Linked DNA regions of Homo sapiens. The protein of the gene in region 3 purifies or fractionates together with the protein of the main gene of each other region. This does not show direct contact. Each region holds a gene or a part of one and is shown on either strand. Other genes may lie near its edges. The genes, in order: ARPC5L, CST4, ACTR3 and ARPC1A.

Region 1 (7,243 bases), on a different chromosome or scaffold from region 3:
TCCAGTGGGCAGAGGCCTATGACACACAGCTAAGATCCCACGTCAGAGAATCCTGGGTCCACAGTGTCAGTTGTGCCGTGATTGAGGAAGATCTAGAGGAGATCAAGGGCTGGGCAGGATTCCCTCAGCACCACAGCCTGTTCTCTGAAAAGGCCTAAAGCCAGCCAAGTATGACAGCCGGCTTCACAAATGATAGGTGACTTCAGGGAGGTCCTCCCTGCGCCCCACATCTCCCAACTGCTGAAGGCCCTCACCCATCAATGGGCCGAGTGATTGCTGGACGCGTGGTGCTGAGTTAACGCCACAGCAGTAGCTTTTTGCCCCCGTGGACTAGTTTTATACCTGCCCTTCCCCATCCATCATTTGAATGATGTCATTTGTTAGTTGTGCCAGGTTTACATGAAGAGCAAGTGAGCCTATGTTTTCTGTTCAGCCTATGGGATCCTGCTTATTGCTTTGGGGACACCACATTAGAAAAGAGTTACAAGGGCTGGGCGCGGTGGCTCACACCTGTAATCCCAGCACTTTGGGGAGGCCGAGGCGGACAGATCACGAGGTCAGGAGATCGAGACCATCCTGGCTAACACAGTGAAACCCCGCCTCTACTAAAAATACAAAAAAAATTAGCTGGGCGTGCTGGCGGGCGCCTGTCGTCCCAGCTACTCAGGAGGCTGAGGCAGGAGAATGGCATGAACCTGGGAGGCGGAGCTTGCAGTGAGGCAATATTGCGCCACTGCACTCCAGCCTGGGCGACAGAGCGAGACTCCGTCTCAAAAAAAAAAAGGAGTTACAAAGTAGAGGTTATCAGTGGCTGATATCAGGCTGGCCTTGTTTGGATGGGGAAAAGGAACTCCAGAACTGAAAGACAGAGGGACTGGACTGCCTCTTGAGTGTGGAAGGTGGATCAGAGCCAAGCAGGGAGCTGGGGAACCAGCGCTGGGAGTGGCTTGCCTGGTGGCGCAGACCCAGCTCACTCAAGATGGATCTCATACTGGGGAAGCCAGGAGATTCAGCTCTGCTCCGAAGGCCCTTCCTGTCTGCACGTGGGTATCACTGCATGAAGAGGAGTAGAGACCCGATTGGGCAGAAGCCATTCCTTGTTCTATTTTTGAAGCTTTTTGGCTGAAGCCAGTGTTTCATACGAGGAAATGAAAGTTGGCTGATGTAATTCAGTTTAAAATAGGTGTCACCTTTGGGGACCTAACCCAGATTGTAATTTTCTTTTGCATGCTGGGTATTCAGAACTCAGCAAAGAATGTGTTGTCAGGATTGCAACTGAGGTTGGGGGGTAAGGGTGGAGACTGGCTCATTGTTGGCAAAAGCTTCTGTTAGATTGATAAACTCTTTCCAGGTAACAGTTGGGACCTCATTGATCCCGATAGATCTTAGAAGTTCTAGCACATCTTAATTTCCTTAATAGTTTAATTGATGAAGAGCATTGATGAAGAGTTAGGAGGTCTCCCTTTGTACCTACATTTTCCGCTTTTTTAGAATGAGAAGATGAGAACGACCTCCAGTTCACATGTACGGGTGCTGTGAGGATCCAGTAGGGGAGATACAGTGCTCAGCACCAAGCAGGTGCAAGTGAGCACAATCCAATTTTACATCAAGTTACCCCTCCAGGACAGTTGCTTTGACGTGGAAGGTAGAGAGGGAGTTGAAAGGAGGGTTTGCATGGTTGGCAGAGGTGCCCTGCAGCCTCCCTGTGCAGGCTGTAAACCGTCTCTGCCCCCCTGGAAGCCGTGGAAGGTGGGTGGTATGGATGAGATCCCATCTGACTCTGTTCCTGAGCTGTTTCTGAAGTGAGCTTGTTCATGACGGCATGGATGTGCTTGAGCCTAGCTATCCTTAACTGGTGGTGATGCACAGGGGACATGCTTCGGGCATTCCATGCAGCCTTGCGGAACTCTCCCGTCAACACCAAGAATCAAGCTGTGAAGGTAAAGGGGTGGCGCTGCGGCTCTGCTGGGTGCTGTTGGGACCAGGGCTGTGGGTGTCTGCCCAGTGCGAGTGTGAGCTTTCATCCACATCAGAGGGAGTGAGTTGGCACTGGGCGGGGCTTCCAGGGAAGCCTCCTGGCGCTCCCTAGGTGGTGAGGCTTCTCTGACATCAACGCTGTCAGCGTTTATATACGAGAACCTCCCCACAGAAGCCTTCACTCCTGCTCACGGCCTCGTAGGCTGAGAAGTCAGCCTGGCCCTGGCTGATGAGGAAAATGGATGAATTCGCTCACCTGTGGTGCTTATGCTCCCACAGACTGTTAAATAGGCTTTGTCTGCCTGAGGATTTTAAGTACCCGTACGCTTTCCTACCTTCTAAAAACTAAATTGTGCTTACTGCATCACCAAGTCTAAAATTTGGTTCAGAGAAAGGGGTCTCCCTGCAGCTGGGATTCTGGCAGCTGTGACAGCATCTTGATGTCACCAGTGGCTGCACCTTCACAGAGTTCTGGGGAATGGCCCCACCCTTCTGGGTGTGAACACAAGAGGGACGCTGCAGCCGAGTCAACCTGGTTTTATTTTTATTTTTTAATAGTCCACCACCATTGTGGAGTATAATAAGGCCTTATTGGTGTCATCTAAAATAGTGATGGGCTGGGTGCCATGGTTTATGCCTGTAATCCCAGCACTTTGGGAGGCAGGAGGATCGCTTGAGCTCAGGAGTTTGAGACCAGCCTGGGCAACATAGCGAGACTTTGTCTGTATTAAAAAATAAAAAAAATAATTAGCTGGGCATGGTGGCATGTGCCTGTAGCCCTAACTGAGGTGGGAGGATTGCTTGAGCCTGGGAGAGGCTGCAGTGAGCTGAGATTGCACCACTGCACTCTAGCTCAGGCAACAGAGCGAGACCCTGCCCCTCCCTCCCTCTCTCCCTCTTTTCTCTTCTCTCTCTCTCTCTCTCTCAGAGTTGATACTTGTCCTAGTAAACTACTTACTCCCCCAAAATAAGTAGGGTAACTTGTTGGCATAAATAAAAGATACTTTGAAATTTAAATCCACAAAAGACGTTCTAACCCACTTATTTTAACCATCCTGGACGAATTAGAAACTGGGCAGTGTTTCTGGTGATCTGTGTCCTTGCTTTGGTGTGGGGCATGGCATGGCGGTGCCTTCGCAGCTCTGGGACTCACTTGCTCTTTTTCGTCTGCAGGAGCGAGCCCAGGGCGTGGTGCTGAAAGTGCTCACAAACTTCAAGAGCAGTGAGATTGAGCAGGCTGTGCAGTCACTGGACAGAAACGGCGTTGACTTGTTAATGAAGTACATTTATAAAGGCTTTGAGAAGCCCACAGAAAATAGCAGCGCAGTGTTACTCCAGTGGCACGAAAAGGTATGTGAACGCTGCCACGCGCCCCAGTGAGCCACCTGGCTTGCCTTGGGGTTCGATCAGCAGGCCAGATTTTCCAGAACAAACGTAGGACGGTCTGATAGGCGTGTGGGGTCAGAGGACGAGCCCCAACCTGGGACATGTCATCACTTCCCTCTCCCAAGGAAGCTCCTGGTAGGGACCTGCTGTCTGTGGTAATTGCAGTTACTTTTTTGCTTTTTAGCTGCCGATTTATGTCAGGCAAGACAGGGTGCCCTTGGTACAGGACATGTGGGCAGATAACATGGCATAGTAAGGTGGTCAGGGAGTCTAGGTAGGAAGGGGGCCTGCTGGTTGGTTGGGGCTTCATGATACTTGCAGTGGTGGAGGCAGCTGTTGGGGGTTCTTAGAAATAGAGTCCTCCAGCCAGCTCTAAGGGCTTCCTGCCCTGGCCTCAGCCTTAGCAGGCCAGAGTGAGCAGTGGGCAGAAACCTTGACCTCACTTAATATGGCCTTCGTCCAGGTGAAGCAGAAAGAGCTGTGTCTGCCCTTCGCTTGGGTCCGTGTGAGAGCAAGGCCTTTGGCAAGCCTGTGTCGTGCCTGTACCACTGGGGCTGCCTCCCACACCCTCCCCTGCACACCCCTAGTGCCGCAGTAAGCACGCCCACCATTAAAGCAGACCAGGAGTTACTAACCTGCCTGCCTTCCTCAGAGGCTCAGTGTTGAGTTGGAAGAGAGGGGTTTTACAGTGGGCCAGTCCTTAAGGTGGTGTGGGTGCTGGGCTGTGGTTGTGGCCTTAGGTCTGCTGGCGGGTGTGCTGCACCTCCTTGGCCTCCCCTCTCCTGGGCTCAAGGAAGTAAACAAGTCCTCTGTATGATGGGGAGGCCAGGACCTCTCGTCCCTTTAAGGCAGCTTGGTGCCTGCCAGTCACCTCAGCGGGCGGCAGTCAGTGGGCTTGTGTGCATCTGTAAACTCAGCACTTTGGGAGGCTGAGGCAGGAGGATTGCTGGAGCCCAGGAGTTCAAGAACAGCCCAGGCAATGTAGTGAGAACCCATCTCTACAAAAAAATAAACTAGGCTGGGTGCGGTGGGCTCACGCCTGTAATCCCAGCATTTTGGGAGACGGAGGCAGGCGGATGACCTGAGGTCAGGAGCTCAAGACCAGCCTGGGCAACATGGTGAAACCCCGTCTCTACTAAAAATACAAAAATTAGCCGGGGGTGGTGGCGGGCGCCTGTAATCCCAGCTGCTCGGGAGGCTGAGGCAGGAGAAGCGCTTGAACTGGGGAGGCAGGGTTGCAGTGAGCCGAGATCGTGCCATTGCACTCCAGCCTGGGTGACAAGAGCGAAACTCCGTCTCAAAAAAAATAAATTAGCCGGGCCTGGTGGTGCACACCTGTGGTCCCAGCTACTCAGGAGGATGGCTTCAACCCAGGACATCAAGGCTGTGCAGTGAGCTGTGATCTGGGCAACAGAGTGAGACCCCATCTCAAAAGGGAAGCTCGAGGGCTCTGCTTTGTGTGCTGGTGACAGTGTTCTCAAGCCAGTTCTGCCCAAGAGCCAACAGCTCTCGGGACCCCACGGCTCCAGGACAGGGCTCCTTCCCTAGAATGTGCTCTATCTCAGGAATCCTCTTTCGAGGATCTGTGACGGGATCTAGGTCAGGGAATGTCCCCCCTGTCTCTGGCAAGCCAGGCTCCCCTTGGCCAGCCAGGTCTCATCTGACACGTTTTCTTTTCCTGCCCCCACAGGCCTTAGCAGTAGGAGGACTAGGCTCCATTATAAGAGTTCTTACAGCAAGAAAGACTGTTTAAAAAAAATAAAAAGACTCATGTTACCTTGAGAAGAATTCTGGATGCCCAGGCTGGTGAAGAAGGGATTGACAATGGACCATCTTCCTAGGAACTCCCAAGTAAACTATTTCAGGACATGTATCTGCTGAAATGTATTTTATTTTCAAGGTGGAGGGGAAAATCGTCTGTTTCCTAAATCCTGTTTAGGATCTGATAGTCTATGCCTTTGTCTCCGAGTACTGCAGAACTGACATTTTGACGGTCTACCAGCGTGGCGGCTGGTGTTGGTCAGATGCACCTGTGTGCACTGGGGGAGGGATGGTTTGGGCAGGTGCAGATCCAAGGGCTGTGGTAAACGGGAGAGCTTGTGTTTTTGAAGTGGAAAAAAACCCAAGAGTTTGTACAGACATCCTGTCTTCCCAGAGAAGGTGGACACTCTTGGGCTCATTGTAAAGTGCCTGCTGCATCAATAAAGCTCTTGGCTTATTAGTCTATACATTGCGGTGTGTTTCGTGTATGTAAAAAAAAATGGTAATGAATGGGATGGTAATGAATGAGAGTTCAGTTGTTGTTCCGGAAACCCGATGTGGAAGGAGTAGACCTGTGTCCCTGTTGAGCCACCCCTGGGAGCGAGCATGGCAATCCACAGGCCCTCTGCCACAGGACGCCAGCCTCGGCCTCAGAGCTGCCGGCTGCTGCAGAGAGGTGTTTGCTGAATAAACTATTTATTGTTTCTTATTCCTTTGATTTGTATGTAATTAATTTTGGAGCTTATTTAATTAATTTAATAAAGTGCCAAACATTTAATAATTGATCTAGGCTTTAAAAGTCTTCAGTTTGTGGGATTGCACTTGGAATCTTTTGAGGGTGGGGCCTCAGATGTGCCTGGTCACGTCTCCTGATGCTGGGTTGGCTGTGCTGCAGAATCACTGCTGCATGGACAAGCTTTCTTTAAAGAACTAAACGTCAGAAATGGGGAGCAATCAATCAGCAAATAGATGGTATAATTTGGTTCCCCATAACCAATAACAGAGCTTCTCTGAAGGGCAAAAATGCTTTTCTTTCCTTTTCAGCACATGTGACTGCAGCTTGCATTCTGTTAAAGGTTAGGGCCCCATTCACACTCCAGAAGCTCCTCTGGGTCATACAGCCTTTGGATACAGACTTTGACCAAAGTGACACAGTCCTCCCCTCCACAGCTCTCCCCTCCTCAGTCCCTCTTCAGAACCACTGCAATTCTTGGGGGGGGTAGAATGGGGCTGTTGGCTTCATTAAATTACGTATATTTATTCACCCAAATCCAGTCTGGGAAGGTTCTTTCTGAAAGAAAGACAAACATTCTCTAGCCCTTGAGGTTGGCCTTGGAGTGTTAAATATGAGACACAAAATACCAGATTTAATGAGTCAAAGAAATACTGACACACCAAACTAGTAAAATCCATTGTAGTTGCATCTGGATTGAAGAGCTTTAATCAAAAAGTGTATTGCACCACAGATGAATTTGCTACAGCAGTTTTCAAGAATACAATCCCTATTTACAACATGGAAGGAGAGCTCAAGATCCATCGCTCGTATAAAGGGCTATAGATACCGTCGCTAACACAGAAAGTTTTATACAAGTCAAAGTGCATTAAATCACTTAGAATATTTATTCCACTCTTCCTCTTAAAGCTGAAGGAAATTCAACATGCAGGAGGAAAGCCTAGTCAGTGAAGCCTCCCTAAAGTGAGTACAGACCTAGGAACGGGCCCCACAGCTACACCTGAAACTGCCGAGGAGTGGGGCCTGGGGTGCGTGTGGGACCAGTTCAATGGCTGGAGAAGCCACGGAGGCAGCGGATGGGCTTCTGTGGAAATGTAGCTGCCTTTGGCTGGCTGTGAGCTACCCAGTCTTAGAGATTCTTTCCTGGAACAGTTGAAAAAGGAAATCCTACTTTGAAAAAAGGCTACCTCTTACCCATCAAACTTGCAGAACAGAAGAGACTCCTGTTTCGTGTTCCCACCAGGTAAATGGAAATTCGTGTTCTAAACAAGGGATAACTGTCTGCAAGGAGGAGCCAGAGGAGGAGGTTAGTCACTGGAGAAGCGGCCTCTGGAAGGCAGAGAGCCTGAGCTGGGACTAAGGAGATGCTGCCCTGACTTGGTTCTT
Region 2 (8,150 bases), on a different chromosome or scaffold from region 3:
GGTAAAGGAATTGATATTTAAGGTTACACAAACAGTGACAGGGAAGTCCCAGCAGTGACCCAAACAGGATAAGAAAGTCTGACCACCCAGAGATGTCGAGGAGATGACTCACCTCCTCAGAGTCATCTGTTTTCCTCATGGCCAGGCCTCTGCAGGCTGCAGCCCAGGGACTCAGACGGATCCCTGGCTGCAGCAACCAGCAGCCCGAGTTCCCGGAGGCCGCCCCTACTCCCCTCCATTCATATGTGGTTCTTCAGTCAGTGAATCTGCACTGACAAACGCTCTTTTTGCAAAATAAATGTTAACTTGCACTCCAGAACCATGAATACCATTCACGTGCTAGTCCCTGAGAGAAAGGATTCTCCTTCTCCCCATGGGGTGCAAAACAATCAGACCTGACACTGGGCTCTGCCCTCTCTCGCCTTTCCTAGCCAGGGCTACCAGCAGGCTTCCCCATGAGTATCACAGTTTCCTAATGATGTGGAAGAGCCAAATGTGTTACCAACATGGGCCCACAGTTTAGAAGCATCCACATGTTCTAGCAGAACCAAATGTGTTACCAACACTGGCTCATAGTTTAGAAGCATCCACGTGTCCACCATGTGTGAGGAGAGGGAGAAAAGAAGGAGGGATGGAGTGAAAGAGACGAGCTTGACCCCAGAGAATTCCAGGCACTCCATAAAGGAGACTCCTGGCCTTCCCATTTGAGAAGTCACCAAATCCTGTGGCTGCTCAGTCCCAGCTCCTACCATAGACCAAACTGTTAGTTGCTCAAAACCCAGATGTGCAGAATCTCAACTCTTGGCCAGCTTGTCCTCACCACTTGAACCTTTAGGTGATGCTTTCTGAGCTTGGCCATTTGTTTATTATAGTATTGTTTAGTGTTCACTTATTATTGGTCATTTATTGCAGAGAACTTCTGCCTGTCACCTAATTTCTCATCCTACTAATTCAGATAATCGGATCAGTAGTCACCATGCAGCCTAGGGGAACACAGCTTTCTCTTTCGTCACCTGGCAGAAGGAAAACATGCCCCCTCCTGGGCAGCTGGACTCCTCCAGGTTACATGGGTGCTGGAGGCCCCAAGCTTGTTCCTCAGTCCATGGTTGCTATCTGGCCCCCTCCTAGTGTGTCCTTAAAACTGTGGACTATAGAAATCAAAGTCTTCTGTCATTTTTTTTGAGATAGGGGTTTCACTGTGTTACACAGGCTGAAATTGAACTTCTAGACTCAAGGAATCTTCCTGACTCACTCTCCTAATTAGCTAGGATTACATGTGCACCATCACACCTGGCTACTCCATCATTTTCAAACATGTTTATACACCGCTACTGAAGTCCGCTCATCTCTGCTGGTCTGAAATCCCAGAAACTATGCTTTAGAAAGTAGCCTCTTTCTCCAGATGCACGACAGACACAACATTTACCTAAGGTCATCAAATATCTGGAGCAGCTGGCCAGCTACCTCAACCTGCCACTTCCTATAACTCCATACTGGACATCGCACTTGTACCTCCTCCTAAGAGCAACCTACATTGGTATCTTTCCTACTGGGATTAGAGAGTTTGCTGCATCAGGACAGCTGACCCTCCCTGCAGTGCATGCCAGAGTCCTGACAGAAGATGACCACTGGTGGTGTCATCACATATGGGGCACAGGTCAGCACTCTGGCCTCCCTCCCTCACACTCCACCCACCAGCACATTCTCGCTATTTGGGTTACCTGCATCTCCTTTCTGATGATTAAAAAAAAAAAAAAAAAAAAAACAAGAGGATTGCTTGACTTTCAGTTTACCCTTTGCACAGCATGTATGTCTTCCTGAGTCTGGACTCCCAGCTGTCCCAGGAAGGTGGGAGACACAGAGGAGAACTAACTCCTACCCTTTGGAGATGACCATTCTGCTCACAAACACCTGGTAAGGGACTTCCCTCTCTTTCCCTTCTCTGGGAATCTCTCCCCATTTCCTGTCTAACTAGGAGGCATATGTAAAGCTCTGTTTGAAGACCTTCCCTCCCTCACCCAGCAGTAAACACCATGGGGACACCTGCTGTATCTGCCAGGCTTCATGGCTATTCTAGGGGTGCTGGATTCACAGTGGGGTGAGATGGTCACCAGGACTCAGGTAACAAGGTTCCCTGTCGTAATACTGAACATGAGCACCCATAAGTAATATGGTTCCTGCTGCCAGGTTCCTGCTGATCCATCCCCAGACATGTCCGAGCCCAGGATGACTCTTGGCCAGCTTGTCCTCATCACTTGCACCTTTACGTGATGCTTTCTGCGCTTGGTCATTTGTTTATTATAGTATTGTTTAGTGTTCTAAACAGGTCTGGGCTGACACTGGCCAACCCTCACCTCCACCACTCCCAAGACAGTCCTCTGGGTGTCCTGCTAAGGCCCAGGGTTTCCTGGAGTTTCTGGCCAAGCCTGCCACCTCCCCATAAGGGCATTTGCCACAGGGTCACCTTCAGGCATGGAGGGTGGGGTTGAGAGAACAACGAGAGCAGCTGTCTGTTCAGAGCCTCCTTCCACCCTCCCCACTCCTGGAGACACATTCCAGCCCAGGCCCACAGCATCCCAAGCTGGGGGCTTTGTCAGCCCACAGGACACCCAACTGACCACATCCTCTCAGTCTGTGGAGAAGGAGAACTCACAGTCTTGGCAATGAAGCAACTCAGGTGCCGCTGGAAAGCCACACTGAGCAAAGGATGAAGACACATCAGGGCTCGCTCTGCAGGACTCCATTCCTGGGAAGCTCAAGGACAGGCGACAAAGGTGTCTACAGGGCCGGATGGGGGCTGCCAGGGTGGGGCGGGCACGAGGGTGGCTGGAGAGGCAGGAGGATACCGTCTGGGGCAAGGCAGATGTCACAGGTCTGGACAAAGTGGTAACACAAGTGTATGCATTTATGAAATCCCCCAGATTGGGCACATACTATTAGGCATTTTATTGTATGTAAATTCTACCTCATTTAAGGCAATTTTTAAAATGCCACGTGAGTCTTCCAAGGAGTGCACAGAGGAAAGGAGCCTGAAGCATGGCTGCCTAGGAGAGAAGCAAGAGAGGCCTGTGGGTTCCCACATTCATCCCGTGGCTGCTGCTCCCTCTCCTGACACCCCCACTGCCTCACAGGGGTCTCCGTGCACCTTCCACCGGTCCTCACCCACAGTTACCGTGAGACTCCAGGTGGTTTCCTCCCTTGCTCACATCCCCTCCAGGAGCTTCCTCTTCCTGGAGCAGGCATGTCCCAACCCCACCTCAGGGCCTTTGCACTGGCTGTTCCCCGCTGCCTGGGGCTGCTCAACCTCTCCAGTCTCATAGAGACCACCCTGACCAGGGTCCAGTGGTCTCTCTCTAGCCCCTGTTCTATTTCACTTCCAACAGAGTGAGTATAACTCCCTGATCCTAATTGTTGATCGTAACCTACCATCCTCTACACACACTGTGTAGGAATTTACTGTGCAGTTCCACAGCCACCAGCCACATGTGCCACAGGACACTTGAAATGGGGCCAGTCCAAAATGATTCCTGGGCTAAGTGTAAAAAATACACAGGGAATTTCAAAGATTTACAAAACCAAAAAAAAAAAACACACATAAACGATCTCATTAATAATTGTTCCCGTTAGCTGAAATAATATTGTGGCTATATTAGGTTAAATAAATATTTTAAACATTACTTTCACCCATTTATTCTCATCTTTTAAAATGCATCTACTAGAAATTTTCAAATGCTTGTGGGTTCATGTCACATCTCTGTGGGCAGCAGCTCTGCAATGTCACCTCTATGGCTCATCATCCAGGTTCCGTCTTCAAGCCCTAGACCTCCTGGCATGGGCAGTAACTGGTGATAGGTTTGTTTATTGAATAATGAGTTATGAAAACAGAAGCCAGTGACCTTTTCCAAAAAGGTTAATTCCCTTAAATTTGGCAAAGAAATTCTCCATATTAGGGTGTGGACAGGGTCTTCTGGAACCTTCTGAAATAACCTCTCTGTTCCAGAGATTCAGAGACCGTGACCAAGTGCTCCTGGAAGCCTCTGATATCTGAAGACCCCGGGAGGCCAAGCCCTGTATTTTTCCCCTTTCTGAGCAAACAGGAAGTCACATTGCTTTCACAGTCAAAGGACCAGTGTCACCTCTGTGGAGACCTGGGTGACTCAAGCTTGGGAGCACTGGGGAAGAGAGGCATGGCTCAGGGAGGCTGCAGTGAGGACTGGAGTGGGGAGGAGGGGGAGATGGAGGAGGAGGCCTGGGAGGGGCAGGGGGAACTTAGGCAGGGAGGGAGCTTGTAGTGGTGGGGGAGTGAAAAGAGAGATGGAGAAAGAGGGGATGGGCAGAAAGAGGAGGAGGAGTCAGGGGCAGGGCATGGAGGTGGGTGGGGCTGGGCTGCCAAAGCAGGATAAATGCACACCTGCCTGCTGGTCTGGGCTCCCTGCCTCGGGCTCTCACCCTCCTCTCCTGCAGCTCCAGCTTTGTGCTCTGCCTCTGAGGAGACCATGGCCCGGCCTCTGTGTACCCTGCTACTCCTGATGGCTACCCTGGCTGGGGCTCTGGCCTCGAGCTCCAAGGAGGAGAATAGGATAATCCCAGGTGGCATCTATGATGCAGACCTCAATGATGAGTGGGTACAGCGTGCCCTTCACTTCGCCATCAGCGAGTACAACAAGGCCACCGAAGATGAGTACTACAGACGCCCGCTGCAGGTGCTGCGAGCCAGGGAGCAGGTGGGTGCTGCCTCCACCCGAGGGGTCCTGAGCCCTAGCCTGGTTTGTTGCCGGACCCCCAAGAGCATTCCAAGCAAATCAACACTGACACATTCATGATCTAATGCTCAGATTCATTCAGCTTTCTCTGACTCTCCGCTGATGCCCTTCATGCCTAAGCATGCTCCCGGTCCATGCACTGCAGACAGTTAAAGGAAGTGCTGCAGCTTCCTTTAACCTGCAGCAGCTGCTGTGTCTGTACCATGACCGTGGCATTTCCCAGCGTCCAGCAGGTGTGGATGGAGACTGTGCTGACTCTGGGTGGGCTTGATGCTGCTCAGGATGAGATCCAGGCGGTGAGGCTCATTCTCCTCCCTGAGTCCTCTCCTCAGGGGCCACATGGGAACCTGGCTCCCTGTTCTGCAGAGCCCTTCTTCCTTCCCCAAGTCATGCCCTTGGGCACAGCCCCTTAGGGCTAGTGGCCTTCACCCTCAGGCAGGCTGACCCACCCCTGCAGGCCAGGATGGCTGAGTCCCTGCTGGGGTGGAGCACGCCTGGCCCTGCCTCTACGAGCTGATGCAGAGTTAGACCTCAGCCAGATGAGGACAGCAGTCACCCAGCAGAGCAGAGGAGGGGTTAGGTCCAGAGTGAGCTTCAGCAGGGCAACTGGGCCCAGCTTGACCTGCATCCCATGGCAGAGCAGCAAATAGTGACACAGCCTTTAGAGCTCCTCCACCTTCTAGAAATTCAAAGGAATCCAGACCAGTCCCGTTTCTCCTCCTACAGCTGTCAGCTGGAGCCCTCACCCTGCACAGGAGGTGCACTCCCTGGTGCCATGGTCCCCGCTGGCCTGCATCTCCCTCTTAAGCATGACAGTAACTTGGAGTGAAGCACAGGGCATTGCAGACCATCAGACCTGGAAGCCTATTTTATACATGGGTAAACTGATACTCGAGGGATCTCAGCAGTTCCTCCTGGTTCCAAAGAGTCCCTCATCCCAGGTTTCTCCACAGCTCTGCCACGTAGTGTCTGGGAGAGGCCCTGTGCAGGGAAAGGGTTCAATTATAATCTGCAATTGTAAGACACTCAGGTGTGCTGCTGACTTGAGAAACGTATCTTGAACCTCACACTTGAAATGGTGGCATCTGGGCGGCCCCATTGACCCAAAATATCTGTGTGTGTGAAGCATCTCATTTCCTACTCTAAGTGAAGTAATAAATCTAGGTTAAATGGAGGGAATAAGATTTTCGTGAGTTAGCTGAAATTTTGTCATCAGACAGCCTTCCTAGAAAAGAGTCAGTGTTCCCTCACCCCTGAGCCACAGGTAGCAGAATTCAATGAATCCTCTTACCCAGCACAGAGAAAACGATGTTTAAGAGCGGGCATGAGGCTCAGCACCCTGCCAGCTGACAGGAAGAGGGGGCTTGTGTGCCTTGTGTTGACATGTGGGCAGCTCACGAAGCCCCCAAGCAAGTCCAGTGACTCAGCCACAGTGAAGTGCCTGTGAGTGCATGAACTGATGGGGGCGCTGTCCGTGCTTCCTGTTTTCTCCTGTGTGCAGACCTTTGGGGGGGTGAATTACTTCTTCGACGTAGAGGTGGGCCGCACCATATGTACCAAGTCCCAGCCCAACTTGGACACCTGTGCCTTCCATGAACAGCCAGAACTGCAGAAGGTACGTTCCTGATGCGGGTCCCGGGCCAGTCATGCACTGCAGAGGGGTGCGTATGTGTCAGCCTCTGTCCTACCCATGTTTGGACGGTGTGTGTGTGCAGGTGGGTATGTGGGGAGCCGTGTATGCATGGATGTGTACGTGTTCATGTACTTATGGGGGGGTGTGCATGTAGGTGTGCATGTGGAAAGGTGCACGTGTGTACACACATGTGCCAGTGTGTGCGGGTAGGTGTATGGAAGCATGTGTGCCTGTGTGTGGGTGTGTGGCGGAAGTATGGGGGTTTGTACATAGATCCATGGGGATGAGGGGTCCAAGTGAGTTTACGTAGTTGCCTATGTGTGTGCAGATGGGGTGGTGAGGGAGGGGGTGATGTGTTTGATTTGCTAGGAAGGCTTTAGCTTGGGAATGGTTACTAGAAGGTCAACTGCCTGCTTTGGGGTGTTGCCTGTTGGACAGGAAGAATCACCTGCGGGGCTGGGTGCTGGGCAGGGAGAAGGGGATCTGTCTAATCCCAGCCTCAGGCACCTGCATGCAGCCAAAGCCACAATCAGATTAGTGGGACCTAGAGGCCTGTTAGCTGGGAAGCCCTGGACCTGCCCGGCTCACCCAACACCAGCCTCTCCAAGAACCTGCTGGTTCTTGTGAGGTCTCCACTCAGGGGAGAGCGGCACTCCCCTTGTTGCCCTTGACCCATGCCCCAGCTCTTTGAGGGGGAGTTGCCCTGCCCTGGGTTCTTCCCTCTGGCCCCTCTTAGTGCTGGCCTGGGTGCTGGAGGTGGAAGGAGCTGGGGGAACTGAGCCACCTCCCCATGTCCTGCACCCTTGGGGCTCCCGAGGCCTTGCCCAGGCTGCTCCTCACAGGGCTGTGATGGGACAGGACACTGCAGGCTGGGGTGGGGGCCCAATGCCACCTGGTGACTTGGAGCCTTGGGAGGGGTAATGGTACAGTCACTACTCATTCTAGTTCAGTGCTCTGGGACTCAGCAGGGGTGGGTGAGGGTGCAGTGTCTCACCTCCATCCTCCTCACCCAGGCTGTGACATCTCATGCCTGGGCATCTTCCCCTTTAACTGTAACCCACACTGATTGGCCCTCTCTCTTCCCTTTCACAGAAACAGTTGTGCTCTTTCGAGATCTACGAAGTTCCCTGGGAGGACAGAATGTCCCTGGTGAATTCCAGGTGTCAAGAAGCCTAGGGGTCTGTGCCAGGCCAGTCACACCGACCACCACCCACTCCCACCCACTGTAGTGCTCCCACCCCTGGACTGGTGGCCCCCACCCTGCGGGAGGCCTCCCCATGTGCCTGTGCCAAGAGACAGACAGAGAAGGCTGCAGGAGTCCTTTGTTGCTCAGCAGGGCGCTCTGCCCTCCCTCCTTCCTTCTTGCTTCTAATAGACCTGGTACATGGTACACACACCCCCACCTCCTGCAATTAAACAGTAGCATCGCCTCCCTCTGAGTTCTTGGCTGTCTGGGGATGTGCACACAGGCAGAGTTTCTGCAGTTCCTTTATGAAGCCTCCTTGTCCTGGTGGTGTGGAGATCACAGGAGTACCTGGGAGCTGATGCGGCCACAGCAAGGCCATCAGGGGAGCTGCTGCCACTTTTGGAGACCTCAGCTTCAGAACAGGGAGAGAGCAGCCAGGGGCTGGAAACCCAAGCCTTCAGCTGCAGCAGCCCCTGGCGAGGGGGTCAGGGAGAGGAGGGGGCCCAGGCAGCTGCCCCAGAAGCTGGGCTGGTGCTTTGGTCTGAGGTCCTGGTCAGACCAGGAGGAG
Region 3 (8,139 bases):
CACAAACTTAGCACCAATGTGGAGATACATAGCCAAAATGTGAACGACCTCAAGTATGCCCCGTGGAGAAGCTAAATTAGGCAGTCTGAAATCCCCATAGTTTTTCTGTATATGGAATGTCGTTTTTAAGAGCTCATTGCCTATTCATAAAGTCCAATCCAATCTCAAAAAGACTGCTGAGTTTTAGGCTCCTTCCTTAGTTCAGCACATTAGCCTGGTAACTATCTGGTAACTATAGTATCAGACATGACTTGGTCATCTGATACCTCCCTCTAGTAGTCTAGCACAGGAATCTTGCTATCAGCTTTCCCAATAGAATGAGTCAGAGAAGCTAAGAAATGTTGCCAAATTAATTTTGAAAAAAATTTAATAAACCATATGCTATTCAGTAAAATATCAAAAAAATTATAACCAGTAAGTTCTATTCTGCAACTACCTGTGTGGTCTTTGCAAAGTCACTTTTCCACAATGTTATTTATGTCAATCATGTGTGTGATTTCACCCTGAACTGCATCAACTTTTTTAGCCAATGTTTGTGTTTGAGGGTGTGTTTGAAGGTGTCAGATATCCTTCAGTCTTCTCTCCCACTCTTCTCCTCACTTCTCCTAATCACAATATTCTAATCCCCTCCCCAATTGCTGTAACTCAAGTTGCTTCTGCCATATCTAAAATATCATCCCCACCTACTCTCCATCTACTAAAACATTCATCTTTCAAGGTTTGGGCTAAGAAAAATCAGTCTACTGCAGTAGAAACTACCCCACTAGTGCTTTAGTCATCTCATGAATGTATACATTATTCCAACTAATCATTTTAGCATTTAAAACAAGTCTCAGATTTTCTTGTTGCTCAGGAATTTATTTGGGAAAGATCCCATGTACCCACAATAAGAAAAAGATGTGTGGTTCCAATTCCGATATCGACTTTCTAATATAATTCCAAATAAGATTAACAATTTACTGCAACCTTGAATCTTATTAATTAAAAATGGAGGAAGTTTAGAATTAAGTCATCTCTAAATCAAGTGGTTTAACATGGGATCTGGACAATATCAAAATTGATCAATAAAAGCCAGAGGGAGAAATGAGGCCTGTTTCTACTGTTAATGTTGAATGTTACATTTCAGGACATGTCAATTACCTTGTACAACAATCTGATTTAGAGCCTGTGATCATTTACACTACAGAGATTTTGAAATGACTGAAGGCTTAGATAATTATTTAAGACCTGCTTCAGAAAAGTCATGATCACTTAGTAATCCCCCACTACCTTACGCAGAATGTCACTTCTAAGGTAGAAACTAGTGGAACAGAAAAAAAGTCGTAATTCGGTCATATTTGACAAATATGGGTATTTTGAAGGAACAAAAGTTGTATACTCATGTAATTCAAAGTTTTATTTTAACATGAAAAATAATTTTTACTCATTCATTCATCAAACACATCCACTAAACTACTATATGCCAAGCAATATGTCAGGCACTGGAAATATGAAATGAATAAAGCAGATGCTACTGTCGAATTACTTTCATCTGTTGTTGGATGTAACACTTAGGTAAAAATTTTAGGAGCAAAGTACTAATTTTTAAACAATAGATCCACTTTTATAAGCCCCACTTTCACCTTACATAGCTGGACTTCTCCCTCTAAACAACTAACACTACCATTTTTATGAAGAGAAATTCCGCACTTACTATCTCTCAAATCTTATCTAGGCAAAATATTTGTCCCTCCTCTAAGAGTGCCTTTACTATTAGACTAAGCCAAGGACAGAATATTTATTCATCTTTATGCACAGTACTTGAACCACAGTAGACAGTCAATCAATGCTTCTGGGATTGAAGGCTCAAAACTTGATGCAATATATAGGTAATATAAGTGAATGTTGGTGCTTGAATAAAAGAGAAACTTTATTTTAATTCAGCATCTTAGTTTTAATGTAATTATAAAAGTCACCAAAAATTGACAGAACACTAGAAAACAAGTAATTGCTAAATCAAAATAGAATATCGTATACTTTTAATCTTTCATTTTTTTTCTTTCAGGTTTTTCAGTTGCCTTCTTTCCTAGATCACGTATTTCTATCGTTGTTCCTTTTTTATTGTTCCTGTGACCACTGGAGCACTAGTAATAAATCCTTAACTCAAATAGGTTATATTTAATTTCAGCACCCAAGCTCCAAATGCATCAGCTAAACTGGGTTATAGCATGGAGAATACCTCAGACGACCACAGATTTTATTTTTGTTAAGATTCTATCAAGACTGAGGCAAATTATAATAAAAGTTCTCATATCATAGAAAACAAATTACGTGGAAAAGGATAAACATTTATACAGTACTGAAGCGTTATCAACAATGAGTAGCAGAAATTCTTTTTCACTGAAGTCCAAAAGCCATCCCAGCCCTCCAGCAGATCTAAAGATTCTTGCTAAAGGTCAATTCAGGATATAGACCTAATACAAGAACAAGGTATTTACTGTCAAGATTTGCTATGAAAGTTCCACGTAACTTGTAACAACTCTGTCCTTGGCCAACTATATATACAAGGTGCTGTTACAATGAAATATATTTTAAGGCACAGTATTCCAAACTGAGTAGAACATTTTGCTCCCAGAGTCTGCACAGATTTTGGATTATTTATACCAGCTAATAGAATTAGTACCAATTAACCCGAGTTGGAAATCTGGGTGGTAACAGACTTCAGAGGGCTATCCAAGGTACTCATGCCTGGTGACTATGAACTACGAAAGATCAGAAAGAATGGGTCACAGGAATCAAGGTTGAGCTGGTAAGAAAAGGGGGAAAAGACTGGACTTCAGTATTGACAGATTAGCCCAGAATGAAGAGGAACAAAAACATCCTTTACTATGGTACAAATAAGCTTTATAACACAAATAATCTTCTCAATAATTTTATAAACATTCTAGTATCATCTTTAGGGTTATCTGAAAGAAGTTTCTATAGATATATTCTCTAGTACTTTTCTGTAGAAATTAAAAATAAAGATCATAATTGGCCTATTATCCCTGTATTTCATATTATTTCTAAAAATATTCCTAGAAATATCTGCAAGAATAGTTATTTTAATCTTTTAAGTAGCTGTGAAAACAAACCAAAAAATTGTATTGGGGGGTCTGAATAACCACTTTATCTCCTATAGAAAAGAAGATAGGTAAGAAGAGGATGAGTACTTATAGTAGGTGCCATGAATTAATGTCTAAGGGTGAAGATGTGAAATTTGCTCACTTTTTGAAAAGCAGGCATCAAGTTAGATAATGATCATTGATTTTATTTGTCCATTACTATTTCCCACTTGATCAAAGCACTGCCTATTAAAAAGGATAAATCAGATAATACCTTTACTACCACTAATGAATCAATAGAAAAGGCTAGGTTTTGCAGTCAGAATCTACTACACTGCTAATATTGCTATTAATAAGCTACATTATATTCTAACAACTCAAAGAAATTGCAGGATAATCCAGTATAATGCCTTTACCTTATATATAAATTGAATCAAGGTCCAGAGAGTTCAAATAATTTGTCCAAAATAATACAAATATATTTTCCAAGTTTTAACAAAAAACAAAGTTCGAGGAGCTATATCATCAATTATCAGAATCAGAATTAAAAATTAAATCACTGGCTTCAGTTAGTGCTTTTGCTACCATGCTCACGTTGCTTGATATCTAATCAATGTTACAGACTATTTAGTTCACCTTGGCCAACCTCTACATATTTCCAGCTGAAGTTGCTTTAAGTTGAAAAAACGGTATACAATCACAGAGGAGAGATATAAAGAAACAAGAATGCTGCTACCATCCTATTAGGGTTCACTCCTCTAAAAGTAGAGCAAAGGGATATCAGAACATACACAAGAAGGGCTGGAGTTTTGTTTCCCCAAATAAGTTAAGCGTAAGCTTCAAGAAAGTTTTTGATCTTCATGTTTTTGTAGCAAACAGTTAAGAACATCTCTGTATAAATATGCCTGAGATTGTCATCAAATAGCTTTATAAACATGTCTTTCTAGCTTATTCACTTAACTACCCAACCATCGCCGGTGGAAAAGACATATTTATGACAATGCTAACAATATTTTATTGGGCCAGGAGCATGACATCTTTACTGCTTATCAATATAGTTCTTTATCAAAAGATCTTTAATAAAAGCAAAGTGCAGAACAGTATATACAGTAAGTTCCTATTTGTGTAAAATAAGAAAGCTACATTTATTTCTACCTACACAGAAAATTACAATACAAGGACATCTAAGACATTCCAAGTAGTCTGTGTAATGATGGAAAAATGAGACAGGCTAGGGAAAAAAACTTACTTTTGCTAATCTACTCTTTGGTACTGTTTGAATAGTATTTTTATAATGTTTGTGAATTACTTTTCCAAGTAAAAAAAGGAGACCTTTGATACTGATGATGATACTACTGTAGGATATAGTTTGTCTTTTACAATCCCATACTCAAAGAATGAAGATTCACAAAAATTATTATAGGATTTTAAATATTCAGATCCACTCTAAACAAAAACTGAAGTTTACTCCCCAATTCTATCTTTAGAGTAAAAACAAAAAACTAAACACTTTATATTCTTTCACTTTTGAATAGACGTATTCCAATCCTAACGTGTTATTTTCATGAATAATGGAGTTCAAGTGTTCACTGATACTGCTAGTAAAAAGCCTATAAAACATTTCCCATTTTCTCTTTCTATAAATAACTGGTAAAATTTTAAGGTCACAAGAAATTTTCTACCATACACATTACAGAGATTTCAATAACTCCCAAATCTCAACAGAAACAGATATCACATACATAAAAACAAAATAGAATTACATTACTTAAAAAAAAAAAACATTAGAAAAGGTAATTCAGTTTTAATTTATTTTCATCACTTTTTCTTCATAATCCAGATATTTTAAAATGCAAAGAAAATTAACTTTCAATGATATGTTCAGGGACTGGCACTAAAAAAAATTTTCAGACTGCAAATGAGTTATACAAATGAAAATATCAAATGGAGATCCAGTTATCAAAATGAAAGCACTCAACATATTAAAAGTTCACAAGTATTTGTATTGAGCACATTACAAAAGTCAGCTTGCTAACTGTTGTGATTTTAAAGAACTATTGCAGAAGTCTGAAGAAAATAGATTTATTAGTTAACTTATAAAGAGATTAAAGAGGCTGAAACAAGTATTAAAAAGAAATTTGTGCCTTTATTAGAATGTTAGGCTTTAAATATGCCAATTTTGATAAATTATTGTTGTTGTTTTGTTTTTTATAAGAAATGACACTACAGAACTGCAATACTGGTCCAACACTCTTGTCTTTACTCTTCTTTTAAAGCAAGAAACAGAATGCGAGTAATCAGAAAGCACTAGCAGGCATCAGTTAATCCAAGATACTAGCTCTTAGTTCCAAAAGCACTTGCAAAGAAAACCTTTTGGGGGGAAGGGGTGGAGAGGGATGGAAGCACTCCATAATAACTGGAATCCCACGAGTGTGTATGCCAAGTCTCATGAGGCTATTTTTTGAATTTATCCTTTACTTGGTCATGGTTTTTTCCCTCAAATACAATTTTTCTTTGACTTTTTTTCCTCAAAGTATAAAAAGTATGAAATATAAACAAGCTCTTGCACTGCACACTTAGAAGTGTACAATTCAAGCATTATAGAGCTATCTACACACTGATAAATCCCATCGAATCTTGGATAATTCATTAATATACAAAATATCAGGGCACAGAAAGAACTAAAACCCACTTCTTTTTGTTACACATAAGATTCAAATATTCAATCTAAAGAAAAACACAATCACTTTCGCTCTCTTCTACATCTGCATGGTGATACACTTATTAAAATATTCCTGTATAATCATGTTTGGTGTTACTATTTCAAGTCAGGTTTAAAACCTCAAAACCAGCCATCCAGACAAAACAGGTAATCAGAAAGATTATCTCTTCCCCACCTCCCTAACCCCAATAACTATGAAGCCAATTTTACGACATGACTCCAAACACTGGATTGTGACGACAAATGCTAGGTCCAATTTCTTCATAATCCTTTTTGGTGTGGCATACTTGGTAGAACTCAGGCTGAAAACAAAAAATATGTATTTTTATAAGGGTCAAAAATCTACCATCTTGAAGGTATATTGAAATAAACTTTAAGAGTGATGCTTTAAAATAGATGTTAAGTCTAAAATGTTTATTATTAGTCCATTCATGGCATGAAAGCTTAGAAATTCTAGCAGCCATGACTTAAAATCAGCTATAAATCTTTATCGGAACTCCAAAAGAGCAATTAACTCCTGTCCCCAATCCTTGTCTCACACACCTGCTGCGAGGATTCTGAAATTTTGAAAAATGGAAGGTTCTCAAATGTCCAGTCTGTTCTGTTGAGACTTTCCCATACTTTCATTGCACCAATAATGTAAAGAAGCGGCATTCGCCTAACTACAGATAAAACTACTCCTAGTCATGCTATGACTATTTTTCGTCTAGTTCTAAGAAATGTCTAGATCATTTGCCTTCCTCATTCAAGGTCTGGAAAAGATAGACTGTTCCATGCTGTGTTACCTCATTTCTCAAGGCAAAGTCACAAACTCAACTAGGTTATATGGCCCAATTGAAGAAGACTAAAATTGAGGAAAAAAATAACTTTCACCTCTTATGTTGGAAATGGTTTTAAATCCAAAGTTGTACAGTTATTCAATAATTCAGATAAAAGCTCCTTCATTTTAATATTGCATGCACTACCAGAACAAAGCACCAATACTTCCTAGGTTAATGGTATTAGAACACTAGAACACCTTTTTAGGGGGCTTTAAAGACATTTTAATTTGGGGACAGGATTCTTAGAATAATTCCCTTTATTCAGTGTAAAACATCATACTTTCTATGCAATGAAGCTTAACTTTTACCTTAATGTTTTTAAATACTTAAACAGAACAAACAAGGACCTTCTGATGACTAAATTACCAGTTTTAACAGAACTTTCCCTACAGATAAACTTTAAAACATAGTATAAAATGGTCACTCTAAAATAATGTCTAGCAAGCTAAAAAAAAAAAAAAAATTAAATTCAAATGACTTCCAATTAAATTTAAATTACTTCCAATTTTTAAAATACTACAAACACATATATACAAAGTTTCCTATTATTTTGAGATACAATTTAAAGGAATTTGCTTTGTTCTTCTCCAAGTATTGATGGACTCTTCTATCTTAAATATATATATATAAATTTAAACATAAGCTTCAGCCAGGCGCAGCAGCTCACACCTGTAAACTCAGCGCTCTTTGGGAGGCTGAGGTGGAAGGATCACTTGAGCCCAAGAGTTTGAGACCAGCCTGGCCCAACATAGTAAGACCTCATCTCAATAAAAAATAATAATAATAATAAAGGCCAGGAGCAGTGGCTCACACCTGTAAACCCAACACTTTGCTTTGGGAGGCCAAGGTGGGCAGATCCCAAGGTCAGGAGTTCAAGAGTAACCTAGCCAACATGATGAAACCCAGTCTCTGCTAAAAATGCAAAATTAGCCAGGTGTGGTGACGCATGCCTGTAGTCCCAGCTACTTGGGAGGCTGAGGCAGGAGAATCACTTTAACCCAGGAGGTGGAGGTTGCAGTGAGCCAAGATCATGCCATTGCACTCCAGCCTGGGTGACAAGAGCGAAAGTCCACCTCAAAAATAAATAAAATAATAATGATAAAATAAAATAAAAGTAAGCTTCATCACACTCACCGTGGAAGCCAGCATTGATCCTCCAAACCAAACTGCATATCGCTGCATGTGGTGTGTAATGACTTGTACATCAATAGGTTTTGGCTAAAGAAAGACATAGTATGATCATCTTCATAGTAAATTCAAATAACAACTTCTGTGTCATTTAACCTTAAATGTACATATACAAAAATAATATCTGTACTAAATTCAGGTGGTATCTTACAAACCAGAAACAATTGAGATTGGCTGTCTCAGAGGAAAGGGGTTGGGAACACTGTGGAAGAGACAGGGAGGGAACAGAGCAGAATAAATGGAAGGGAAATAACAATGAGCACATGTTTTATACAGTTCTGACTTTAAGAATCTAAATGTTAGTGTTTTACATACTAAAAAATAA
Region 4 (8,139 bases), on a different chromosome or scaffold from region 3:
GCCTGTGGTCCCAGCTACTCAGGAGACTGAGGTGGGAGGATTGCTTGAGTCCGGGAGGTCGAAGCTGCAGGGAGCTATGATCGCACCACCACACTCCAGCCTGGGTGACAGAGCAAGACCTTGTCTCAAAAAAAAAAAAAAAAAAAAAAAAAAAAAAAAGTGCACCTCATCTCCCAACCTACCATATAGTCAACACAAAGCAACATTTATTTGCTTTGCTTTCCTTTCAGCTAAAGGGAAAAAAGCATATTCTTGAGAAAGAACAACTTTAAAAAGCAATTACATGGAATTCCATGGTATGATCCTTAAAGTTCTTAGCAAAGTGGCTGCATTTCTTCTAGCTTCAAGCTAATGACAAAATAAAAAGCTTTAACTGAAAGAACAGCACAATAACAGCTTAGCAGCGCACTGTTTAGCTATGTTTTATTAATTGTTTCACTTTGGAATTTGCAGAGACTGCTGCCTGGAATATGAAATGAGAAAAATACTGTTGTCAAGAAAGACAGGGAGAAAGGGAGACACAGAAAGAGATGGTAAGAAAGAGACAGAGACAGAGACAGAGAGAGTACATGCTAATCCTCCCCTCTAAACCATAGATATTCTTACACTTAAGGAAATCTTCGCTGGCCCCACCCTTGCCTCTCCCTCCTACCCCACTTCCAAGTGGATTTCTTTTTACCTCAGTGACTTATGAACTTGTTCTTTTAATCACCATGCTTGAGCTCCTTTTCTGGATCACAAACTGCTTCCATTTTTTTGTTTTGTTTTTGTTTGTTTTTTGAGATGGAGTCTTACTCTGTCGCCCAGGCTGGAGTGCAGTGGTGTGATTTCAGCTCACTGCAACCTCCACCTCCCCGGTTCAAATGATTCTCATGCCCTAGCCTCCCAAGTAGCTGGGATTACAGGCATTTGTGACCACACCAGGCTAACTTTTATTTATTTATTTATTTTGAGACAGAGTCTCGCTCTGTCGCCCAGGCTGGAGTGCAGTGGTGTGATCTCGGCTCACTGCAAGCTCCGCCTCCCGAGTTCACACCATTCTCCTGCCTCAGCCTCCCGAGTAGCTGGGACTACAGGCACCCGCCACCACGCCCGGCTAATTTTTTGTATTTTTTTAGTAGAGACGGGGTTTCACTGTGTTAGCCAGGATGGTCTCGATCTCCTGACCTTGTGATCCGCCCACCTCAGCCTCCCAAAGTGCTGGGATTACGGGCGTGAGCTACTGCGCCCGGCCTCTTTTGTATTTTTAGTAGACACGGGGTTTCACCATGTTGGCCAAGTTGGTCTTGAACTTCCAACCTCAGGTGATCCGCCCACCTCAGCCTCCCAAAGTGCTGGGATTACAGGTGTGAGCCACAGCACCAGGCCTCATTTTTGAGTCCCTCACAGTGCCTAGCGCAGTACCTTGCAAAGAAAAGGAAACTTACAGGCCAGGCACACTGGCTCATGCCTGTAATCCCAGCACTTCAGGAGGCCAAGGAGGGAGGATCACTTGAGGCCAGGAGTTCAAGACCAACCTGGGCAATGTAGCAAGACCCCGTCTCTACAAAGAATAAAGACAATTTTAAAAAAATTAGCCAGGTGTGGTGGCATATACCTGTAGTCCCAACTACTCTGGAGGCTGAGGCTGGAGGATCGCTTGAGCCCAGGAATTGGAGGCTGCAGTGAGCTATGATGGTGCCACTGCACTCCAGCCTGGGTGAGAGTGAGACCCTGTCTCAAAACAACAACAACCACAACAAAACAAAAAACAAAGAAAGAGAACCTAAAATTATTTGTTGAAGGATGAAGAATGCACGGCTCAAGTTTATCAGTTCTCACTGGTTCCCACCTGCATTTGAAGTCACATGATCCTGCTGCCAGCAAAACGTTGTTGGGATGCCAATCCAAGCTGAGGACTGTGGAGCGAATCGGCTTTTTAATGTGCTTGCTCACCCACCTATGAGAGGGGAAAACTGTTTCAGTTTATCCACTCAACCAGCATCCCCAAATGACCTACAAATGTATGTCAGGTGAAAATACCTAAGTAGGCCACACTTTTCCTTAATTTAAAAAAAAATTATAAAACAATTCAGAATATTATTTTTTTCAGAATAAACTTTTTCAGATAGGTTTCTATAAAAAAAGATTCTATAGAAAAGTAACAGAGCATTCAACGTTCTTCTGTCGGTCACCAGGCCTTCTGCCAGAGACAAGGTTTTTTGATACCAGGTTATGATCTGAGACTGGCTAATTTTTGTATTTTTTGTAGAGATGAGATTTCTCCATGTTGCCCAGGCTGGTCTCAAACTCTGGGGCTCAAGTGATCTACCGGCCTCAGCCTCCCAAAGTGCTGGGATTACAGGCATGAGCCACTACGCCCAGCTGACAAGGTGCATTGCTAAAGGACAGAAAGGAAAAGAACCATGAACAGGCCTTCTCCACTCCTGGCCCTGATGTTCTCAGCACAACAGCTGGTTTTCAGCAGTCCTCATTAGTAAGCATAGATATTGATTAACTCAGTTATGTTTTCGTGAGATTTCGGATTACATAGGACGTTAACCTCTGAGATAAAAACTGAAGTTTGAAAATACTTCAATTTTTATTATGAATATTCAGTGATTTGCTGAATTTTTGGTGAATTTGGGGTTGTAAGACAGCTTAATATCCTTCCCAAGTCTCCACGAATCTGCAAATTCTTTTTAATTTCTTTCACTGAAAAATCACAACCAAGAAATTAGAAGAACCTCATGTTGGGGATTAGCCTCTAATTCGCTAGCACCATCCAAAAAAGATGATTTATGTCTAGGACCAGTCAGTATTTTGGCTTAACTAATTCATTTCTGCCCCCAAACTGCTGTTTAAAAACCAATCACGTCTGGTTGCTCAACAGTTGGGAGACTAAATATTGAGCCAATGCCTTTCCTTCAATGCTAAATTACCTTTCTATAGAATCACTTTCTTTCTTTTTTTTTTTTTTTTGAGATGGAGTTTCGCTCTTGTTGTCCAGGCTGGAGTGCAATGGCGTGATCTCAGCTCACCGCAACCTCCACCTCCCGGGGTCAAGCAAGAATCACTTTCTTTTATTTATTTATTTTTTATTTTTTTGAGACAGAGTCTTACTCTGTCATCCAGGCTGGAGTGCAGTGGCGCAATGTCAGCTCACTGCAACCTCTGCCTCCTGTGTTCAAGCAATTCTTGTGCCTCAGCCTCCCGATAGCTGGGATTATAGGCTCACGCCACCACGCCCGGCTAATTTTTGTAATTTTAGAGGAGATTAGCTTTCACCATGTTGGCCAGGCTGGTCTCAAACTCCTGGTCTCAGGTGATCTGCCTGCCTTAGCCTCCCAAAGTGCTAGGATTACAGGCATGAGCCACCACGCCTGGCTACAGAATCACTTTCTTAGTATCCTGTCTGAAGAAGTTCATTCTGAAAAAGACAGCCAGGTGCAGAGGCTTGCAACTATACTCCCAGCACTTTGGAAGACCAAAGCAGAAGGATTGCTTGAGTACAGGAATTTGAGATCAGCCTGGGCAAGAAAAGTGAGAACCTGTCTCCACAAGTAATCAAAAAATTAGCCAGGTGTGGTGGTGCAAACCTGTAGTCCCAACTACTTGGGAGGCTGAAGTGGCAAGACTGCTGGATCCCAGGAGTTGGAGACTGCAGTGAGCCGTGTTTGTACCACTGTACTCCAGACTGGGTGACAGAGAGAAACCCTGTCTCAAAAAATAAATAAATAAATAAAATAAAAAACCAAAATCCCCCACAAAGTCTCTAAAAAAGGAGAAAAAGACAGTATTTCGAATTGTTTCATAATGTATACATATTTTTTGAGACAGAGTCTTGCTCTGTTGCCCAGGCTGGAGTGCAGTGGCATGGTCTCGGCTCATTGCAACCTCTACCTCCCTGGTTCAAGCGATTCTCCTGCCTCAGACTCCCAAGTAGCTGGGATTATAGGCATGCACCACCACACCTGGCTAATATTTTGTATTTTTAGTAGAGATGGGGTTTCTCCATGTTGGCCAGGATGGTTTCGAACTCTTGACTTCGTGATCCGCCTGCCTTGGCCTCGCAAAGTGCTGGGATTGCAGGCGTGAGCTACCGTGCCTGGCCTTTATAATGTAATTTTTTTAATTAAGGAAAAGATGGCAAGCAAAATAATTAGTTCATATGGCTGAATTATAAACTTCTGAGAAGTTGTTTTAAAGTACTCCTATGAAATATGAAATAATTGTTCTACAGCTGAGAAACTGCCCTAAACATACAGCTTGTTCAAAGACAATACCTTGTACCATAATAAAGTCCAATTTACCTATACTTGACACTAATTCTCAACGAATAAAAATGTAAACAATTACTGAGGTTGAAGCTTAACTTGGAAGAAAAGTTTCCTGTAGAAATTTGTAAGATTGCAAGGAGTACCAGCTGACATAAAGTTTAGCCTTGAGAGAATATTAATGAAGTTAGTTTCCTATCTCATTACAATGAAACTTCCAAATAGTTTCTAGCAGGTAACATTTTGTTAGCCTTGATTTCACATTTGAAAGAAAAATGTATGTTTCAAATTCGTAACTCAATTTTTTTTTTTTTTTTTGAGACGGAGTTTCACTCTTGATGCCCAGGCTGGAGTGCAATGGCGTGATCTCGGCTCACCGCAACCTCTGCCTACTGGGTTCAAGAGATTCTCCTGCCTCAGCCTCCCAGGTAGCTGGGATTACAGGCATGCACCACCACACCCCGTTAATTTTTTTGTATTTTTAGTAGAGACAGGGTTTATCCGTGTTGGTCAGGCTGGTCTCGAACTCCTGACCTCAGGTGATCCACCTGCCTCGGCCTCCCAAAGTGCTGGGGTTACAGGCATGAGCCACTGTACCTGGCCCATAACTCAATTTTACCGCAAATTCCCAATCTCTTTTTGAAGAATAAAATTTCTGAAGTTTTACTAAATTACAAAGGTAACATGATAATCCCCTTCTTTCAATTTCAGCAGAATACAAATAACAAAACAGCTACAAAGAGTCATGTATACTCTGCTATTTTTAGTAGAAACACAAACACTGCCAGTTTAGTAGTAAATGACAACTTTACGTTGAAGGATATTTACCAGTCATGCTGAACACATGCCACACAGAAAAATAATTTTTTTTTTTTTTGAGATAGAATCTCACTTTGCCGCCCAGGCTGGAGTGCAGTGGCACGATCTTGGCTCACTGCAACCTCTGCCCTCCGAGTTCAAGTAATTCTCCTGCTTCCTCCCAAGTAGGTGGGATTACAGGTACCTGCCACTGTGCCTGGCTAATTTTTGTATTTTTAGTAGAGATGGGGTTTCACCATCTTGGCCAGGCTGGAGAATAATTGTTTCCTTATCAAAACAAACAGGAAGGAGTAGTTAAAATAAGTTTTGGCCATAAAATAAACCTGTGTTTTGACTGGGTCAGCAAGAAGTAATTTAAAAAATGTGCAATAGCTGATTAGACTTCTAAGATTCTGGTGAGTTTTGACTTCAACAGTTTAAACAAGTAAAATATTACACCAAGACACAGATTTGGTTGGCAAATAAGCTTTAAAGAAGGAACATTGACCAGGCGTGGTGGCTCACGCCTGTAATCCCAGCACTTTGGGAGGCCGAGGCGGTGGATCATGAGGTCAGGAGTTCATGACCAGCCTGGCCAAGATGGTGAAACCTTGTCTCTACTAAAACTACAAAAATTAGCCGGGCACGATGGCAGGTGACTGTAATCCCAGCTACTCAGGAGGCTGAGGCAGGAGAATTGCTTGAACCAGGGGGCGGACGTTGCAGTGAGCCATGATCGTGTCACTGCGCTCCATCCAGCCTGGGCAACAGAGTAAGACTCTGTCTCAAAAAAAAAAAAAAAAAAAAAAAAAAAAAGAACATTGTTATCTGTAGGAATCCTACATAGATATCCTGTGAAAAAAAAAAAAAAAGAAAAAATATTCCTCAGGGAACGGAGACTCTTTCAATGTTATTATTTGTAAATGAGAGTAAGAAAACAGCAATTTGCGCAGTATAGAGTGAGAACAGTAATAGCATCTTGCAGAAGAAACAAGTTAGGCGATCAGAACATGGACACAATAGCTCTATGTTAATATAAAAAACGTGCGATTTAACTTAACATGCACATGAGAAGGGAAAATGCTCAGACAGAATCGAGAATTTCAGAGAAAAAACCACACAACTCCGGATGAGAAAAACTGGAGTTATGGTGAGCCCTCACACAGCAGTGCAAATGTAAATTCTATAGAGAGGGATAGAAAAAATTCAGATGTCACTCACCAGTCATTTTCAGACTCAAAGTAACAAACAGAAATGAGTCGTGCTCCACTTCCCACAGCAAATTTGTTCTCTAGGGGGGACCACTTCACAAAAGTAGCTGCGCGATTAATTCTCAGGATCACCAGGGTTGGCTTCCAAACACCATCTTTCTGACTCCAGACATAGGCATTGCGGTCTGCCCCACAAGTGACAATGCGGTCGCTCTTGGGAGCCCAGTCAATACCTGCAAGTGAGACATGGGTCATCTGCTTTGCCCAGTCAATGACAAACAACTGCGGCACAGGCAGGTGGGTGGCACTGGCATGCCAGGATGAGACGTGGTCTTGGGACCTTCCTCCCAGGCACATCCTTCCCACTATCTATGTCCTGATCACCGCCTCAAGGAAAGGCAAGGATGCTTCTCTGCAAAGCGTCTGGGACTCGGGATTGTCTATGAGGTCATGTAGAAGAGCTGTTTTATAATTACAGACTTTACAAAACTAAACGGGGCCATTCTTTCCACCCATTCACACATTTCTAAGACTTCTAAAGATCTGAAGATTCATTACTTCTTTCTTTCCTCTTTATTAGATTTTTGTGTGTGTGAAAATAACTGTATTCATTAACACACCTCATTCTATGATATTAACCAACAGTCTGCTACATGGCATTCAACTAAAACAGCATACAGGGTAAATAAAAATAATCTTTAGTGTAAAGAGGGGGAACTATATATTGTGATTCATCATATATTCTTCTGAAAGTCACTGCCAGTTGAACCATACTGAAAACCTTTTCTACATGATGCAGGTCCTGTGAAAGAATCCTTGTTTCTTTGCATCTAAACCAGGAAGATACCTAAATATGTATCTGAATGTAAGGTTTATTTTTCTTATTTGATGAGACTTTACTTATCTGGTACCTCTGTGAAGAATCCCAAAGTCAAGGTCAGTTTTTCATATACCAAGACTCAAGGTCAGTTTCTTATATACCAAGAGCAAAATTCACCATGACTCATTTAACACTTATTGATGAGGTATTTTCTTTTCTTTTCTTTCTTTTTTTTTTTTGAGATGGAGTTTCACTCTTGCAGCCCAGGGTGGAGTACAATGGCACGATCTCAGCTCACTGCAACCTCCGCCTCCCGGGTTCAAGCGATTCTCCTGCCTCAGCCTCCCGAGTAGCTGGGATTACAGGCAGATGCCACCATGCCCGGCTAATTTTTGTATTTTTAGTAGAGACGGGGTTTCACCATGTTGACCAGGCTGGTCTCGAACTCCTGACTTCAGGCGATCTGCCTGTCTCAGCCTCCAAAGTGCTGGGATTATAGGCATGAGCCACAGTGCCTGGCCTTGATGAGGTATTTTCTATAAATATAATTTCACATTAAAAAGTACAGAAATATTACTAATAAATATTTATTACAGATCTCTCTCTAAAAATTAATAATTAGCATTCTTGACATTTATATGGAAAAAAGACAAATATACCTCTGAGCCTCAATTACCCATAAGTCATAGTGACTGAAGAGTTAGGCCGGGCGCGGTGGCTCTTTGGGAGGCCGAGGCAGGCGGATCACGAGGTTAGGAGATCGAGACTATCCTGGCTAACACGGTGAAACCCTGTCCCTATTAAAAATGGAAAAAATTAGCCGGGCGTGGTGACAGGCGCGTGTAGTCCCAGCTACTTAGGAGGCTGAGGCAGGAGAATGGTGTGAACCCGGGAGGCGGAGCTTACAGTGAGCCGAGATCGCACCACTGCACTCCAGCCTGGGTGACACAGCGAGACTGTGTCTCAAAAAAAAAAAAAAAAAAAAAAAAGTAGTATGAAGAGTTTAGTTTATTCATTCATTTACCCACATGAAATATCAGCTCAATTTTTTGTA

The links.
Region 1: the proteins of ACTR3 (region 3) and ARPC5L purify together in Homo sapiens (affinity purification with mass spectrometry; 7 studies listed by BioGRID and IntAct, with this or other methods). This does not show direct contact.
Region 2: the proteins of ACTR3 (region 3) and CST4 purify together in Homo sapiens (affinity purification with mass spectrometry; 2 studies listed by BioGRID and IntAct, with this or other methods). This does not show direct contact.
Region 4: the proteins of ACTR3 (region 3) and ARPC1A purify together in Homo sapiens (affinity purification with mass spectrometry; 9 studies listed by BioGRID and IntAct, with this or other methods). This does not show direct contact.

The regions. Positions count from the first base shown.
Region 1 is NC_000009.12:124,871,825-124,879,067, forward strand, and holds the end of ARPC5L (actin-related protein 2/3 complex subunit 5-like protein), read left to right. Parts: exon of another isoform or gene 1-1,842; coding exon of another isoform or gene 1,843-1,862; exon of another isoform or gene 1,863-1,867; coding exon 1,868-1,940; intron 1,941-3,150; coding exon 3,151-3,327; intron 3,328-5,053; coding exon 5,054-5,116; 3' UTR 5,117-5,909; downstream 5,910-7,243. UniProt on the Homo sapiens protein: May function as component of the Arp2/3 complex which is involved in regulation of actin polymerization and together with an activating nucleation-promoting factor (NPF) mediates the formation of branched actin networks.
Region 2 is NC_000020.11:23,685,316-23,693,465, reverse strand, and holds CST4 (cystatin-S precursor), read left to right. Parts: upstream 1-4,427; 5' UTR 4,428-4,496; coding exon 4,497-4,724; intron 4,725-6,264; coding exon 6,265-6,378; intron 6,379-7,488; coding exon 7,489-7,572; 3' UTR 7,573-7,826; downstream 7,827-8,150. UniProt on the Homo sapiens protein: This protein strongly inhibits papain and ficin, partially inhibits stem bromelain and bovine cathepsin C, but does not inhibit porcine cathepsin B or clostripain. Papain is inhibited non-competitively.
Region 3 is NC_000002.12:113,955,328-113,963,466, reverse strand, and holds the end of ACTR3 (actin-related protein 3), read right to left. Parts: intron 7,845-8,139; coding exon 7,761-7,844; intron 6,108-7,760; coding exon 6,012-6,107; 3' UTR 871-6,011; downstream 1-870. UniProt on the Homo sapiens protein: ATP-binding component of the Arp2/3 complex, a multiprotein complex that mediates actin polymerization upon stimulation by nucleation-promoting factor (NPF).
Region 4 is NC_000007.14:99,342,652-99,350,790, reverse strand, and holds part of ARPC1A (actin-related protein 2/3 complex subunit 1A), read right to left. Parts: intron 6,499-8,139; coding exon 6,276-6,498; intron 1,940-6,275; coding exon 1,832-1,939; intron 1-1,831. UniProt on the Homo sapiens protein: Probably functions as a component of the Arp2/3 complex which is involved in regulation of actin polymerization and together with an activating nucleation-promoting factor (NPF) mediates the formation of branched actin networks.